Linked DNA regions of Homo sapiens: region 1 is linked to region 2. The links come from fine-mapping of genetic effects on gene expression. A gene starts in region 2. The other region holds a variant in brackets. All regions are shown on one strand. Distances are between the middles of the regions.

Evidence for each region.
Region 1: its variant is fine-mapped to the expression of BBLN in fibroblasts (GTEx, PIP above 0.99).

The regions. Positions count from the first base shown.
Region 1 is chr9:128,101,820-128,109,819 of GRCh38, reverse strand. It overlaps SLC25A25 (solute carrier family 25 member 25), which reads right to left. Exons shown (of 11, transcript NM_001330988.2): 4 at 7,705-7,740; 5 at 7,339-7,450; 6 at 5,981-6,139; 7 at 3,939-4,091; 8 at 3,563-3,670; 9 at 3,300-3,467; 10 at 2,641-2,791; 11 at 575-2,560. The coding sequence ends at 2,376. Among named protein-coding and RNA genes, the nearest start is that of SLC25A25-AS1, 13 kb to the left of the region's middle. The variant G/A (reference allele first, on the strand shown) is at 4,360.
Region 2 is chr9:128,155,797-128,163,796 of GRCh38, reverse strand. BBLN (bublin coiled coil protein) reads right to left here and starts at 3,532. Exons shown (of 2, transcript NM_024112.4): 1 at 3,311-3,532; 2 at 1-354. The coding sequence starts at 3,389. The coding sequence ends at 182. RefSeq lists silencers at 3,283-3,372, 3,583-3,792, 5,812-6,007, 7,281-7,481 and enhancers at 2,724-3,677, 3,678-4,631.

The DNA.
Region 1 (8,000 bases), 54 kb after region 2:
AAGGTGTTTGGCTTAAGTTCGTAGAAGAAAGGAGTTGCCATTTGCTGGCATGAGGAAAATGAAGAAGCAGATTTTGGGAGGAAAATGAAGGGTTCGGCTTCTGACATGCTGAACTCGAGGTGCTGTTTAAGTGGATGTGGATTTCACAGTTGTACTGATGAAGCTGGAATTCGTTCAAGTATCAAAGGAGTGTCATCTAAATATAGATATTGAAGGTAATCCTCAGTCAGATGAGGTTACTGAGAGGGTGTGAGGAGGCAGGAGCGGGGTGAGGCTGGGAGGGGCAGCTGGGGGGAGGGGAGAGAAGCCCAGCGACGTCCTCGGTGTCTGTGAAGATGGCACTTCCGGCGGAGGGAGAGATCCCCCGCACCCTGCCTGAGACAGGCTGAGGAACGACCCTACACAGCAACTCAGGGCACCCCAAATCGAACACGCAACCATTAAAGAGGGAGCGCCTCTAAGAAGCCGAAAGGGGGCACCACCAGGCTCCAGAGGGGAAAACAGGGCGCATTTTCTAACATGTCAGCACCCCCAGACCACCCAGGCCCCCGTCAGAAAAATACTGGCTCCATGATCAGCTTTGAAACAACTTTATTAGAAGGCTGCTTTAAATGACAACTTCTAACGTCCAATTCTTTCTTAATTTGCTTTTTGACGACTCCAGTTATATGTTCATATATAACAATTTTTGCATTGATCTTTGCATCCTATTGAAGATTTCCTCATCAGGTCATTCTGGTGGAATGGAAGTGCAACCGTGAGGTCGCCAGTTGGCCGGCATTGTTAAGCAAGGGCAGCAGAAGGCTGGGAGGGACGGAGCCAGTCCCCCACCCTCTCCTCCAGCCCCCGCCCACCACAAATTCACAGTGAGAGGCACCTCACTGCCTTGACATTCAGAAAAGAGTGAAATAAAGAAACCCTCGCAGCGCAGGAAATAACTGGATTCCACCTTCAAGGTTATTGAGGTTCCTCCCTCTCTCTCCACGCCCCCAGTCAAACCCTGAAATCCTAAGGCTGGGGGCAAGCCCTTCCCCAACCTGCCAAAGGAAAGGAGCCAGGGCTGCTGCCTTCTGGCCGCTTTTCTGCCTCCAGTCCCAAAAGGAATTTCTCTGGACAGATGTGACTGCAGCGGCCCAAGGCCCCCCTTCTCCTCCTCCTCCCATCCCACTGGGCGGGCTTGGGAAGGTACAATCAACCATGAACATAAATATGAATAAAAAATGAACTTGAAAATGACAAGCTATTAATTAAACAAATCTATAAAAATAGTTAGGACATAACTCTGTTCAAATAAATACAAAATAAATAGGTTCCAAGCAGTGACACAAGTGGAATGTGGGGCTGGTCCCGCTGCGCCCCTGCTGGGGTTGGACAGGAACCCCCAGGGCGTCAGAACAGACTCTGAGCAGTCAGCCAAGCTCCTGCTCCCTCGTCTTCCTCTGGAAGCACAGAAGTCGCTCATTTGTCCGGCTTGTCCTTCTGGACAAAACCCTTTTCCCAACAGTCCATAATTAAGGCCTCCAACACCTTTTCCTTCCCTCCCCAGAACACACAAACGCTCTGCCCTTCGCCCTCAAACATGGTGCTCCACTGCCCTCATGCCACAGTGGGGACAGTGAGTTTGGTTCTGAGGTGGGGCCCATCCTGACAGGGTCCAGGCCAGCTCAGAGCACCATGAGCCCCAGCACTTGCCTTCTGTGCAGCCAGGCCAGGCAGCCCGAGCCCCCTGCACTCCCAAGCATGCCCGAGAGCCCCAGCCATCAGCAGGGCTCAGATGCCAGTGACCACAAGGCCAGATCCTTTCCTCTTCCTTCACAGCCAAGTTGGCGTCAATGCTGTAGGTTGGGAAGTCAGGCCTGGGAGGCCACGTGACCTCACCTTTCATCATGGATTATGGGATTGGACGAGGGGGTGGGATGTGGGCTGTAGCCCTCCTCCCACCTTACCTCAGCAGACAGGCAGGCAGCAAGAGGGCACAGGGAGATGCACGGCAGACCAGAGGGCAGGGGCCGTGGCCAACAGCTGGCTGCAAGGGTGAAATGGAAGAACTAAGCCGGCCTCCAGGCTCCAAGCTCGCTATTGGCAGGCACTGCAGAAAATGTCCTGTCCTTACACATGTGAGCCCGGAGCCTGCTGACCCTGGACCCTAAGGAATGCCTGTGGTCTTCGCTGGAACCAACAGGAGGGTCTGCTGGGGTCAGCAGGACAAGCCCTGGGCCTGCCAGCTCTCCCCACCCTCCCTGCGGGTGCGTCTAGGGTTTTCACAGCTTGGCTCGAGACAGCTTAGTGTTGGCACATTCACAGAATGAGATGGCTGCACACCCCAGGCTGCGGCCCAGGATCAGCGAGTCCACTGCCGGGCGGCCCTCCCCCCGTCACCGCGACTGCACGCCCAGGGTGATCTTCAGGTTCTCGTAGACCACGTAGCTGATGCTCACAGCTGGGATGACCTTCATGAAGTTGGGGGCCAGCCCCCTGTACAGCCCGAAGGCCCCCTCGGTCCGCAGGATATGTTTGAAGAGGCTGCTCATGGTCACCTCCGGAGCGCCCTCAATAGAGGCTGCAGGATGGAGGCCACCAGTCAGATGCTTCTGTCCGCTCCCCCCGACCTCCCAGGGGACTGTCCAGGGCCAGCCTTACCTTGCGCCTGCATCCGGGTCCTGACTAGGGCCAGGGGGTAGCTGGCCAGCTGGCCACAGGTACTGGACATGGTGCCACAGGCCAGGAGCACAAACACGCCGGGGTCCGCGCTGTTCACTGCATAGTGCTGCAGCCAGGCATTCTTGAGCGTCTAGAAGGAGAAGGGAGCATGGGATAAGCCCTAGGAAGGGCTAGTGAGGCAGCAAGAGACGGGGCTGTTACTGGGTCCTCAGGCCACTGGAACCCGACTGCCGCGCCTGGGGCCTGGCTGGGCTCCTAGCCTGGCTGCCCTGTTTCTGCTGTCACTGGGAATTCCGGGACAAGGTAGAGGGAACACCTCCTTCCCCACACAGAAGGGCTGACTTCTGGGGTCTGTCTAGAGTGTGCTGGGGCCTGTGAGCTCCTGGGGGCCACCCTGCTCTGGGGATCTGCCTGCTGAGCCTCTGGGGATGCAGAGCCTGGGTGCAGGGCTCACAGGAGCTGCTGGGGTCTGCCAGGGGCAGGCAGGGTGAAGGAAAGCTGCAGTAAACAGAAGAGCAGGAAGGAGGCGCAGTCTTTGATGCAGTTTCCTGCACTAACCACGCGTCCGTCAAGGAGGGAGACAGCAGGTGGAGGTGTGCTGGGAGGAGGTTTCTAAATCTGTCCAGCTTGGGCCTCACCTCGTAGACTGCAAGGTCGATGCCGGCATAGGGGATGATGCCCAGCATGTTGGGGACATAGCCTTTGTAGAAGGCGGCCACCCCCTCTCTGGCCAGGATCCTCCTGGCGCAGTCCAGCATTCCTGAGTACTGGCCTGTCTTCCGCAGCGCCATCCGGGTCTTCAGGACCTGCACAACAGGAGCAGCGGGACGCGTGAGCACAGCCTGTGCCTCTCCCCAGTCCTGTGCCCACTGCCCGCCCCAGGACCCAGGCGGCCCCTCACCTCCATTGGGTAGATGCTGCTCTGGGCGATGGCCCCTGCCAAGGACCCTGCCACAAGCCTCTCGTGAATCCTCAGAGTCTCCTGGTCACTACCAACAAGGCGCTTGATCTAGAACCAGGAACAAACAAACCACCTGATATACCCAGAGGTTGGGGCACCTGCTGCTGCCCCTCCCTTCCAGGAGTCCCCGGCACATTTTATGCTACCCAGAAATGTAAGGAACTCGTGGTGAGCCTGGGCCTCCTGCCTCGCCCTGCTGTCCCTGGGGTACCACGGCTGGCTCCAAGTGTCAGGGAGCTCAGCCCAGGGAAAGCCAGCAAGTCCAGGCAGTGAGTAGCCACTGGCCGGTGACCCTCCTGAGGAGCTGGGTCCTCACCTGCTCATAGGCCATGAATTTGATGGCTGATTCGGGGGCAATTTTGAGGACGTTGATGCCATTGCCCCGCCAGAGTGACCTGGCCCCTCCTTCTCGAATCATCTGAGTGAAGCCACCAACGATGCCCATGTTGTTGCTGCGGGAGGCATGGACCTGGGAGGGAGGACCGAACAGTCAGACGGACCCGGGGGGCCACAGGCTGCCTCACCCGGCCAAGAGCCTCTGCTGGCCAACCGGCTGCGGCCAAAGGGAAGGCCCTTTCTTCCGTGCATTTTGAAGACAAGCTTGGAATCATGAGCCCAAAGTAACCCAACACGGCTAAGTGAGGCTCAGCTCCATCGTACTGGGTATCTGCTGGTTGCCAGCCTTGTCCTGAACATCTCCATAAAGATGACTTAAAAAAAAAATCAAGGCTGGGCGC[G/A]GTGGCTCATGCCTGTAATCCCAGCACTTTGGGAGGCTGAGGCAGGTGGATCACTTGAGTTCAGGAGTTCGAGACCAGCCCAGCCAACATGGTGAAACCCCGTCTCTACTAAAAATACAAAAGTTAGCCGGGCGTGGTGGCAGGCACCAGTAATCCCAGCTACTTGGGAGGCTAAGGCAGGAGAATCGCTTGAATCCGGGAGGTGGAGGTTGCAGTGAGCCAAGATCGCGCCCCTGTACTCCAGCCTGGGCGACAGAGCGAGACTCTATTTTAGAAAAAAAAAAAAAAAAAAAAAAAAAAAAGGCCGGGAGTGTTGGCTCACATCTGTAATCCCAGCACTTTGGGAGGCCGAGGTGGGCAGATCACATGAGGTGAGGAGTGTGAGACCAGCCTGGCCAACATGATGAAACCTCGTCTCTACTAAAAATACAAAAATTAGCCTGGGGTGATAGCGCATGCCTGTAATAATCCCAGCTACTAGGGAGGCTGAGGCTGTAGAATTGCTTGAACCCAGTGAGGGAGGTTGCAGTGAGCTGAGATCATACCACTGTACTCTAGCCTGGGTGACAGAGCGAGACTGTCTCAAAAAATATAATAATAATAATAATAATAATAATAATAATAATAATTTTTAAAAATCAAAGTTTTTCATTATTAAAAAAACTTAAGACATATTAAAAAATAGAATGAATGCCCACTCAGCTTAGACAATGATCAAACCACAGCCAACCTCTCTCTCCTGCTGCCCCACCCATGCTGGTTTAAAGGCACACGCCAGGCATTTGATTTCACCCAAGGCCTGCTTTCAATCTCTACAACATTCCTGATAATTCTGCTAAAAAAACAAAAGGATGAGGCAGTTGTTCAAGCCCCTATTTTCACAGAGGAGGGGAAGTCCTGGGAGGGAAAGGGGTTTGCTCAAGGCCACAAGAGGGAGGGAGGCAGCTGTGGTGGTGCCCTGGGCAGAGTCCAAGCCCGAGGCATTCTGCCCTGAACCACCTGCTTCCTTTGTCTCTGTGCAACACAGGGAGGCCCAGCAAGGCAGACTGGGGAGAGAAAGGAGGCAGCTCTTCCAAGCCGGGCTCCTGGCACAAGAAGTACTAGGTACGGGCAAGGGGACAAGTGGTGGCCAGTCACCATTCAGACATCAAAGTCCACCAGTGTCGTTGTGTGGGTCAGTTTCACAATTCTGCCTTGACATCAGCCCAGCTTATCTCTGCTGTGTGGACATGGATTTGCGTACCTGGCCAAGGTAATGGCGTGGCTTCCCATTGGCATCTGGGTCAGGTGAGGCTCTGCTGGCCCCAGTGTGGGGTAACGTACACAAAACGTACTTACAGAAATTGGTTCCTGCCTCACCCCAGTCTCGCTAGCTTCACCTGTCCACATTATGCCCCTGTAATGTGATGCCTCAGATAAAATTAGATCCGCTCTGCACAAAATGTCACCTACAGTGACATTTTGGTACCCCCTGTCTGAGCAATAATTCTAGTCTAATTTATTGGGTTAGAAAAGTTTGGGCCCAAAGCAGGCACCAGCCAGAGAAAGGGAAAACTAGCCAAGCAGCATCCCCCAGGTGGAAACTGGCCCCCCAGGGGTCTGGGGCCTTTTCCCTACATACCTGCATGAGCACCTTGAGCCTGTCCAGGGGGGCCGTGCAGGTTCTGGATACGGCCCCTGCCCCACCTCCTGCCACCAGGTGTCTCCACCACATCCCCGTCTGCCTCTCCTCCACTGTGAACTCATCCGGGACCGTTAGATTCTCACCCACATCAAAGATCTGTGAGGAAAGATGGCACAAGCCTGACTCAGGACCCTTGGGGCAAGGCTGCTGGCACCTGTCGCCGTCTACCCTCTAGCACGGCTCCAGGCCAGGGACCACAGGACAGGGAGAAGGCCAAGGACTCTGGGTGGGAAGCGGGCTGGGGTCTTTCCCTTCACTCTGAAGGTAGCAGAGCTCTCACCCCTGCTGGGGTCCTGGAGAGGCACAGGTATAGAACCTCAGCTGAACACAGCCGGGAGGTGCCGGTTAGAAAACCATTCACCGGCCCTTTCCAATGCTGCCAGGGAGCTACTGCAAGAACAGCTCACAGGCCTGTGTGAGATTGCCAGGCTGGCTGCGCTGAAGGGATCAGGCCGGGGTGAGAGCCGTCTGAGATCTCACGTGTAACCAGATCACGCTGGCAGAACATTATGCAACGCCTCAGCAAACACGAGGGCTCGCTGCCTGCGTAACCTTTCTCCGGGTGACATCCGGGCTGATCAGAGCCACCTCTGCTCTGATCCCAGGGCTAAAGGCCAGAGCTCTGGGCCAGCTACTCCCACCCCTGGAGCTGTCCATTTAATCTCACCTAACAAGCCCTGGCCTGGCACTGCGAGAGGCAGATGAGGAGCGCCTCTGGCCTCCCCTCCTGGAGCGGATGGTCCAGAGGGACAGGACTGCACACCAGGACTCAGAGAGGGACACGCCAAGCATGAAGGGCTCGGGGCAGAGACCAGCACAGACTCACATTTCTGAACATGAAACCACAGTGGACGGGGGCGAGAGGGCAGCAAATGTGTGACCGTGGGGACACCTCACAGCTCTGCCTAGGTGTTCTCTGTAGAGTAGCTTCTGCCCCAGCCCCCTCCCACCGGGGGGAAGGCTCATACCAGCTTTGGGAGAACAGACAGCATCATGGGAAGGGGTATTTGAAGTGGCCCATGAGGAGCAGGGAGCAGGGAGCATGTGGGGACGGAGGGTGTTCCTGGAAGAGGAAGCCTGTGTGTGTGAACGATGGGGCTGTTCAGGTTGGCTGGAGTGCCAGAACATGGGGAACATGCGGACAGCTCTACTGGGCTGGCAGAAGAGGGGACAGTCTCCTGTGGAAGAGGAGGTGGCTGGAAAGCCCCAGCTGCACTCTGGGATGGGGACGACTGGGTGACTCTGGGCTAAGGGTCCCTGGGAGCAGATGAGGGCCCTGGGCACGTGGGGCTCACCGTGGAATGCTTCCAGTAGAGGATGATCTCGGGGATGTTTTCCACGGGGTGGAGGAGGTGGTAGTCTCTCCACTCGTTCCAGTCAATGGTCATCGTGCCGTTTTTATCCATGCTGCAAGACAGAGGCGAGGCTGCCCACGTGCCCACATGCCCATCCGCCAGCTGCATCCCCCCACCTCCCAGTGAGCCAAGGGCAGGCATTCGGATGCCCAGAAACCACACGAGGTGCCTCTGCCCCCAGGAGAAAGAGCAGGGGGCTCCACACCCCACTTAGCACAACAATGGCAATATAATGGCCCACAAGAATCCCGCTCTGATCAGGCATGGAAGTCAAGGGAGGCAGTCATGAGCGACATGGATACTTACTAGGTGACAGGGCCCCAGAAATGGCCCGTTCGTATTCTGACAGACAGACAAAGGATGCGGAGGAGAGAGCAGAAACAACACGCATAAGTGCTCGGAGCCATGTTAGTGAAGCAAGCACACACCCAGAGACAGGGGCACAGCACGGCACGAGACGAGCCCGCCACAGCAGCTGAGCCCAGGGCTGCTGTCCCCGAGGACCAGCCAGTGTTCAGACCGCAGGGTTTCCGGAAGGTCCAGCCAGGACAGACGGCAACTCCCAGGGCTGTTCCATGAGATTTCCTGGCAGCCGCCCCGCA
Region 2 (8,000 bases):
GGGGGCTGGCCCAGGTAGGCCAAGGGGAGGCCCAGGCAGGAAGGGTGGCCCAGGCAGGCAGACCCACCAGGGGTCCCTGAAGGCCAGCCCTTGAGAAGGTGTCTAAGCCAGGGGGTGAGTGCCCAGGCCAGAGCCTAGCCCAGGGAGGCAGGGTTGGGTCCCGGTTGGGGGCTCTTGGAGCCTAGGGGCTGGCATCACTGGGGGCCTCCCCGAGCTGCTGCTGGAACTCCAGGCGTGTCTGCCGGTTGGACTCCAGCAGCTCCTGGAGGCGGGCGTGGAGGTGGTCATTCTTCTCCTCCAGGTGGTCCAGACAGGAGTTGATCTGGTCCAGCATGGAGTTGATGGCAGCGTATTCTGGGAGGAAGGCGAAAGACAGAGCCCAGATCCTGTGTCTCCTTGGGGCTAATGGACACCCTCCCTCCACTGTTTCCCAGCCTGCTTCCCAAAGGGCTTTGTGCAAGTCCCTACTGCTTCCTGAGCCTCAGTGTCACCGTCTGGAAAATGGGTGGAATACCAAAAGAGGAGTGGCTTTGAATGAATGACACTTTAGTACTGCATCCTTTTTTCTAGGGTTAGGGTGGTCATAGGGTGGCGAGCCAGTGTCCTACATGGGAAGTCCTGCCAGATGCCAAGTCTCTGCACTTCCTGCAGCAGCTGCTTAGTGGCCAGAGCCCACATTCCTGAGTTGGGCATTCAAGGCCTCTGTCCCCAGATGGGCCCTGTTCGCCAGCCCTTCTGTGGCTCCCTCAGGATAAAACACCCAGCGGAGTCTCCAGCCCCTGCCTCCTAGCTAGCCCTGCCTCCCTGCCTCTTCCTTTCCTCTCTCACACCTGCCTTTACCTACCTCAGGCCCTTTGAACATGCTGCTGTCTCTGCCTGGAAGGTGCTGGGTCCTCCCATCTTCCTTCCCTTCTCTCCTCCTGGATGAGTCCCACTCATCCTTCAAGTCTCAGTATGGATGTCACCACCGGGAGCCCACCCAATGCCCCAGACTGGATCAGGCCTCTATGCTGAGCCCCTAGCCCTCCTCAGCCCTCCACGACCTTCTCTCCAGGATTGACTGCTGTGCTTATCTGAGTGCTGTTATGTTTCCCCATGAAAGATGAACGGTCCTGTGTTCGCTGCTGGCTCCCTGGTGCCCTCACAGTTTTGCAATAAGCATTTGTTGAATGACTGAGTGAGTGAATGAATGAAGCCTCTGACTTTCCAGCCTCTCCGCCATTGCTCAACTATCCCTGCAACCTAGAATGCCTCAACCACAACAGCCCTTCAAGGACCAGCTCAAAATGCCTCCTCCAAGAAGCCTTCCCTGGTCTCCACTAGAAACCATCACTCCCTCCCCTCCACGGCCACTCCAGAGCTGCCCTGCTCAGCAACACAGTGTCCCTGAGGACTCAAGGTCTGGGCCTGTGCCCACTGCGGGACCCAGTTCTGAGCCAGCCCATGACTCACATACACTCAGCTGCCAGCTTGAGACCAAGGGGGAAGCAGCCGGTGGAGGAGCTGGAGGAGCGTATCTGGGTTATGGGTGCATATGTGCCTGTGTTCTAGGAAAGGGCACCCGTTGCCTAGAGCCAGCCACCCTCACAGACGACAGCGTCCTGGGAAATCGGCTGCATCTTAAAGTCCAACCCCCTCATGGTATATAGCTAGGGAAACCGAGGCCTCAGAAGGAAGGAACCTGCCCAGGGTCCTCCAGGTTGGTAACAGCCGAAACTCAGGATTGGACTTGGGGGTCAGGGTCACTTGGGTTTGAATTTCAGCTCTGCTTTACCCCAGCAAGTTGTACCTTTCTGGAAAAAAGGGAAAATAAAAAAGGTTGTGAGGATTCAAACACATCAAGAGTTCAGACAGTGGCCGGTGTGGTGGCTCACGCCTGTAATCCCAGTACTTTGGGAAGCCAAGGCGGGTGGATCACCTGAGGTCAGGAGTTCGAGACCAGCCTAGCCGACGTGGTGAAACATTGTCTCTACTAAAGATGTATAAAAATTAGCCAGGCGTGGTGGCAGGCGTCTGTAGTCCCAGCTACTCGGGAGGCTGAGGCATGAGAATCGCTTGAACCCAGAAGGCGGAGGTTGCAGTGAGCCAAGATCACGCCACTGTACTCCAGCCTGGGCAACAGAGCAAGACTCCGACTCAAAAAAAAAAAAAAAGCTCAGACAGGATCTGGCCACAGCAAGTACTTAGTGGATGGTCATTATTATCAATATTTCGAACTCTGTGTCCTGGGATACAGGCTAGGAGGAGGAATTGGGGAGGCAGGTGCCCCACACCCCTCCAGGCCAGGCTTTATCTGTGTCAAGGGTACTTCCCAGTTCCAAGCCTTTGCTTCTGCCTGGGACACCACCCTCCTCCCCACTGTTCTAAGTCCTGTCTGCCAACATCCACTTAATGTGACCTCCTGGGAAGCTCTTCCTGATGCTCCCAACAGCATTGCCCAATGCAGAGCTACCTGAAACTATTGTGATGGATGTACAACCCTGGGAATACACAAAAGCCTACTGAACTGTACAGTATGGGTAAGTTGTATAGCTCAATAAAGCTGTTACGCCAAACAAAACAAAGAGCATGCACCATACTTACACCACATTTACTAAATCCTCAGTGTATGTTAACATGCCAATCTTTACTATACCAAAGATAATAATGACGATAACCATTTACTGAACTCTTGCATGCTAGAACCTGCTAAGGATTTTCCTTTTTTTTGCATTTAATTCTGACACATCCCAGTGCAGCAGACACTAATCGTTATTCCTATTTTATAGAGGGGGAAACTGAGGCTGAAGAAGGTGAGAAGGGAGCCGATGGTTCTCTTCACACCCCACCCCTGCACTCGTAAGCACGCAAAAGGCTGCTCTGTAAGCTGCTGACATTTGGCAAGGCTGTGAGGCTACACCAGCAAAGCCGGGTGGCTGGGGATGCTGAATCGGCAGAGCGACGCCCCCGCGTCCCCAACTCCACGTCCCGGCCCGGCCCCTCCGCTAAGCTCAACCCTGCCTCCCTCAGGTGCCTCGGTCTCCCCCAGGACTGAAGGAAGTGGTGGAGCAAGGCCCACAAGGGCGAGTGTCCCCGAAGCTGCCTTAGTTTCCCCATCTGTAAAACGGGACTGGTGACCTGCAGCTCTCACGGGGCTGGGAACCGGCTCGCGGGTGCTCGCCCTGCATCCGAGACAGCACCTACAACTCCGGACCCGCTCGGGGCGGAATGGGTGGGCTCTTTGTTCCCTTCCGAGACCCCATCTCGATTCCCCTTCCCGGGAGGGCAGCCCTGAAAATGCAAGGTTGCTCCAGCAGCCCCCTCGGGTCACCTGCTTCCCCGAAGCCGTCCTCCTCGCCTTCCGCTCCCGCCTCCACCGGCATCCCCAGGTCTCCGTTGGGGCCCGACATTGCGGGCTCGGGCGCCCGAAGGGCCGCGCGACGATGGAACGCGGCGACCGTCGCGCCGAAAGCCGGCGCCGGATGGAAGGTGGAGGCGGCGGATAGAACACGGGCCGGAAGGGTAGAACGCGGCAGCAGATCTCCGCCCAGAGGCCGGTGCCCCGCCCCTGAAGCCGGAATCCCGCAGCTCCCGCTCCGCCCCGCCCCGCCCCCAGCCGGAACTCCGCCCCCGCCGCTGTTCTGGCCCCGCCCTACCTCCAGACTCCACCCCCACCACCGGACTCCCGCCTCCACCTCCCTCACAGTCGAACTCCGCCCATTCCGCCCCCGGCCTCGCCCCTCTCCCGGGCGCTGGGCGGGGCCACCACGGGGCTGCCCCTGGAAAAGCCCAGGAGTAGGGAGGTCCGGGAGGAGCGGCGGGAGACCGTCCAAGCCCATCTGCTGCTTCGGCCCCTCCGCGTTGGCGAAATCGAAAACGGGGTTTCCTTGTTATTTTTTGAGATAGGGCCTGGCCCTGTCTTCCAGGCTGGAATGCAGTGGGGTGATCTCTGCCTCCCAGCCTGAAGCGATCCTCCCACCTGAGCCTCCAGAGTAGCTGGGACTACAGACGGCTGCACCACGCTGGCTATTGTATTTTTTGGAGACGGGGGGGGGGGGGGGGGAGGGGTTTCGCCATGTTACCCAGGCTGCTCTCGAACTCCTGAGCTCGAGCCATCCACCCGCCTCAGCCTACCAAAATGCTGGGATTACAGGCACGAGCTACTGGGCCCAGCCTTGGAAACGGGGTTTCCACACCTCTTGTGGCTTCCGGATATACCTCTTGTGGCTTCCGGATATTCTTCTTCACAGCCTCGCTGAGAGTCACGAAGGGTCTCCTTCCTCTTTGCCTCTCTGCCTGCACCCCAGTGGAGAGGACCCAACACCCCTACCCCTGGATCTGGGCCTTCCTGGTCTTCAGCGCTTCTCTTAGGGCTCATTGGTTACAACCTGTGGGTGGGAATCAGGCTGGACTCCAGCTCTGGACAAGAGAAACAGGAACATTAGCTAGGCGGGGTGGCTCCCACCTGTAATCCCAGCGCTACGGGAGGCCGAGGTGGGAGGATTGCTTGAGCCTAGGAGTTGGAGACCAGCCTGGGAAACATAGTGAGACACCCTACTCCCACCCCCGCCCACTCAGCCCCCCCCACCCCCGTCTCTACAGAAAGCACAAAAAAAATTAGCCAGACCTGGTGGCATGCACCTTAGTTGCAGCTGTTTGGGAGGCTAAGGCAGGAGGATCACTTGGGCCCAGGAGTTCGAGGCTATAGTGAGCTATGACTGCACCACTGCACTACAGCCTGGGCAACAGAGTGAGACCCTGTCTTTAAAAAAAAAAAAATTAATTAATTAATTAAAAATAAAATGTTTAATTAGCCAGGTGTGGTGGTACACGCCTGTAGTCCCAGCTACTCAGGAGGCTGAGGCAGGAGAATCACTTGAACTGGGAGGCAGAAGTTGCAGTGAGCAGAGATCGTGCCCTTGCACTCCAGCCTAAGCAACAGAGCAAGACCCTGTCTCAAAAAAAAGAAAAAAAAAGGCCAGGCCTGGTGGCTCACGCCTGTAATCCCAGCACTTTGGGAGGCCGAGGCGGGCAGATCACGAGGTCAGGAGTTTGAGACCAGCCTGACCAACATGGTGAAAACCCGTCTCTACTAAAAATACAAAAATAAGCCGGGCGTGGTGGCGTGTGCCTGTAATCCCAGCTGCTCAGGAGGCTGAGGTGGGAGAATCACTTGAACCCACGAGGCAGAGGTTGCAGTGAGCTGAGACTGCACCACTGCACTCCAGCCTGGACAACAGAGCGAAAATCCGTCTCAAAAAATAAATAAATAAAAAGTTTGGCCTGGAGCAGACCTACCTTTGTTTGTTTGTTTGTTTTGAGACAGAGTCTTGCTCTGTTGCCCAGGCTGGAGTGCAGTGGCATGATCTCAGCTCACTGCAACCTCTCCTTCCCGGGTTCAAGCAATTCTTGTGCCTCGGCCTCCTGAGTAGCTGGGATTACATGTGCCTGCCACCACACCCAGCTAATTTTTTTTATTTTTAGTAGAGACGAGGTTTCACCATGTTGCCCTGGCTGGTCTCAAACTCCTGACTTCAGGTGATCCACCTGCCTTGGCTTCCCAAAATGCTGGGATTACAGGTGTGAGCCACCATGCCCGGCCTGGACCTACCTCTTTTTTTTTTTTTTTTTGAGACGGAGTCTTGCCCTGTCGCCAGGCTGGAGTGCAATGGCGCAATCTTGGCTCACTGCAACCTCCACATCCTGGGTTCAAGTGATTCTCCTGCCTCAGCCTCCTGAGTAGCTGGGACTACAGGCACACGCCACCACGCCCAGCTAATTTTTGTATTTTTAGTAGAGACGGGGTTTCACAATGTTTGTCAGAATGGTCTCGATCTCTTGACCTCGTGATCAGCCCACCTCGGCCTCCCAAAGTGCTGGGATTATAGGCATAAGCCACCGCGCCTGGTCCCTGGAGCTACCTTTTTAAGTTGAACTTTGAGAAGCCAAAGAGAAAAAAAGATTAAATAAAAATTTAATTTTTTTTTTTTTTTGAGACAGAGTCTCACTCTGTCACCCAGGCTGGAGTGCAGTGGTGCGACCTTGGCCCACTGCAACCTCTGCCTCCCGGGTTCAAGCAATTCTCCTGCCTCAGCCTCCCGAGTAGCTGGGATTACAGGTGTATGCCACCATGCCCGGCTAATTTTTGTATTTTTAGTTTCACCATATTGGCCAGGCTCGTCTCGAACTCCTGACCTCAGGTGATCCACCCGCCTTGGCCCCCCAGAGTGCTGGGATTACAAGTGTAAACCACCATTCCTGGCTAGATTTAATTTTTTAAAAAATAAAGAGAAGTAGGAATAGTTCATTTTAGGGAGAGCCCCTTAACTGGGACAGGGGCAGGACAGGGGTGAGGCTTCCCTTAGTTCAAGCTCACCTCAAACCCACCCAGGACTGTGTGTCACATTCTCCAATAAAGGAAAGGTTTGCTGCCCCCGCCTGTGAGTGCTGCAGTGGAGGGTAGAGGGCCGTGGGCAGAGTGCTTCATGGACTGCTCATCAAGAAAGGCTTCATGACAATCGGCCCAGCTGCTGTCATCCCACATTCTACTTCCAGCTAGGAGAAGGCGGCTTGCCCACAGTCACCCAGCCGGCAAGTGTCACCCCTGGGTTGGACCCAGAGCTATGATCCTGCCCAGGGGTCCAGCTGAGAATCAGGCCCACGTTCTAGGCAGAGGGGCTCACCTACTGGGACTCCAGTAGCTGTAGTGCATGGAGGCATCATGGCTGCAGCAGCCTGGACCTGGTCTCACACTGGCTGTCCCTGTGGGCAGGCCATCCTCAATGCCAGGTCAGGCCCAAGCATGTATCCCAGACAATGACAATGGGGTGGAATCCTCTCTTGTCCCAGAAGCCACCCTCACTGTTCTACCTGAGGAAGGCAGGGGCATGGTGGAATCTGAAGCCTGCTGTGAGGGTCTCCAGCGACTTGCACATGGTCAGCCCTGCCTTCTCCTCCCTGAACTAGATTGAGCGAGAGCAAGAAGGACATTGAACCAGCACCCAAAGAATTTTGGGGAACGGCCTCTCATCCAGGTCAGGCTCACCTCCTTTTTAAAATTTAATTAATTAATTAATTAATTTTTTTTTAGAGACAGAGTCTTACTGTGTGGCCCAGGCTGTAGTGCAGTGGCACAATCATAGTTCACTGCAGCCTCAAACTCCCCACCTCAGCCTCTGGATTAGCTGAGACTACAGGTGCACCACCACCACACCCAGCTAATATTTTTATTTTTGTAGAGAGAGGGTTTCACCATCTTGCCCAGGCTGGTCTCAAACTCCTGGGCTCAAGTGATCCTCCCACCTCAGCCTCCAGATTAGCTGAGATTACAGGCATACCACCACCACGCCTGGCTAATATTTTCAATTTTGTAGAGACAGAGTTTCACCATCTTGCCCAGGCTGGTCTCAAACTCCTGGACTCAAGTGATCTTCCCACCTCAGCCTCCCCACGTGCTCAGATTACAGATGTGAGCCATGGTGCCCAGCCTAGCCTGCCCTCCTTGGCTGAGAGTGAGGCCCTCAGCAGAGAAAGAGATTTGCTGATGCTCCACTGCCTTTGAAGGAGGAAGGAGCCACAGGCTAAGGGGTGCAAGGAAGATAGCATGAGAAGCTGGGAAGGGCAGGGAGCAGCTTCCCTGAGAGCCTCTGGAGGAAGCACAGCTCTGTGGACCCTCATTTCTGCCCAGTCAAACTGATTTCAAACTTCTGACCTCCAGAATATATAGGTGTTGTTTTAAACCCACAGTTTGTGGTGATTTATGATAGTGACACAGGATTTTTCTTGGTCATTCTGCCGGCCGGAGACCCCCAGCCAGTGACACCCCTGTCCAGGAAGATGTCAGCCCTGTTACCTGCTCTGGCCTGTGGCTCCAGAGCTGGCTCAACCCTAGCACTGTTACAGCTTTCTTTGTACCCTCACTTGGTGGGTCTCAAGCTCTTGTCCGGAGTCCAAGAAGAATGAGGATACGCTGACAATCAAAGGGTGAGGAGGACAGAGAATAATTTTGTTGAGTGATGGAA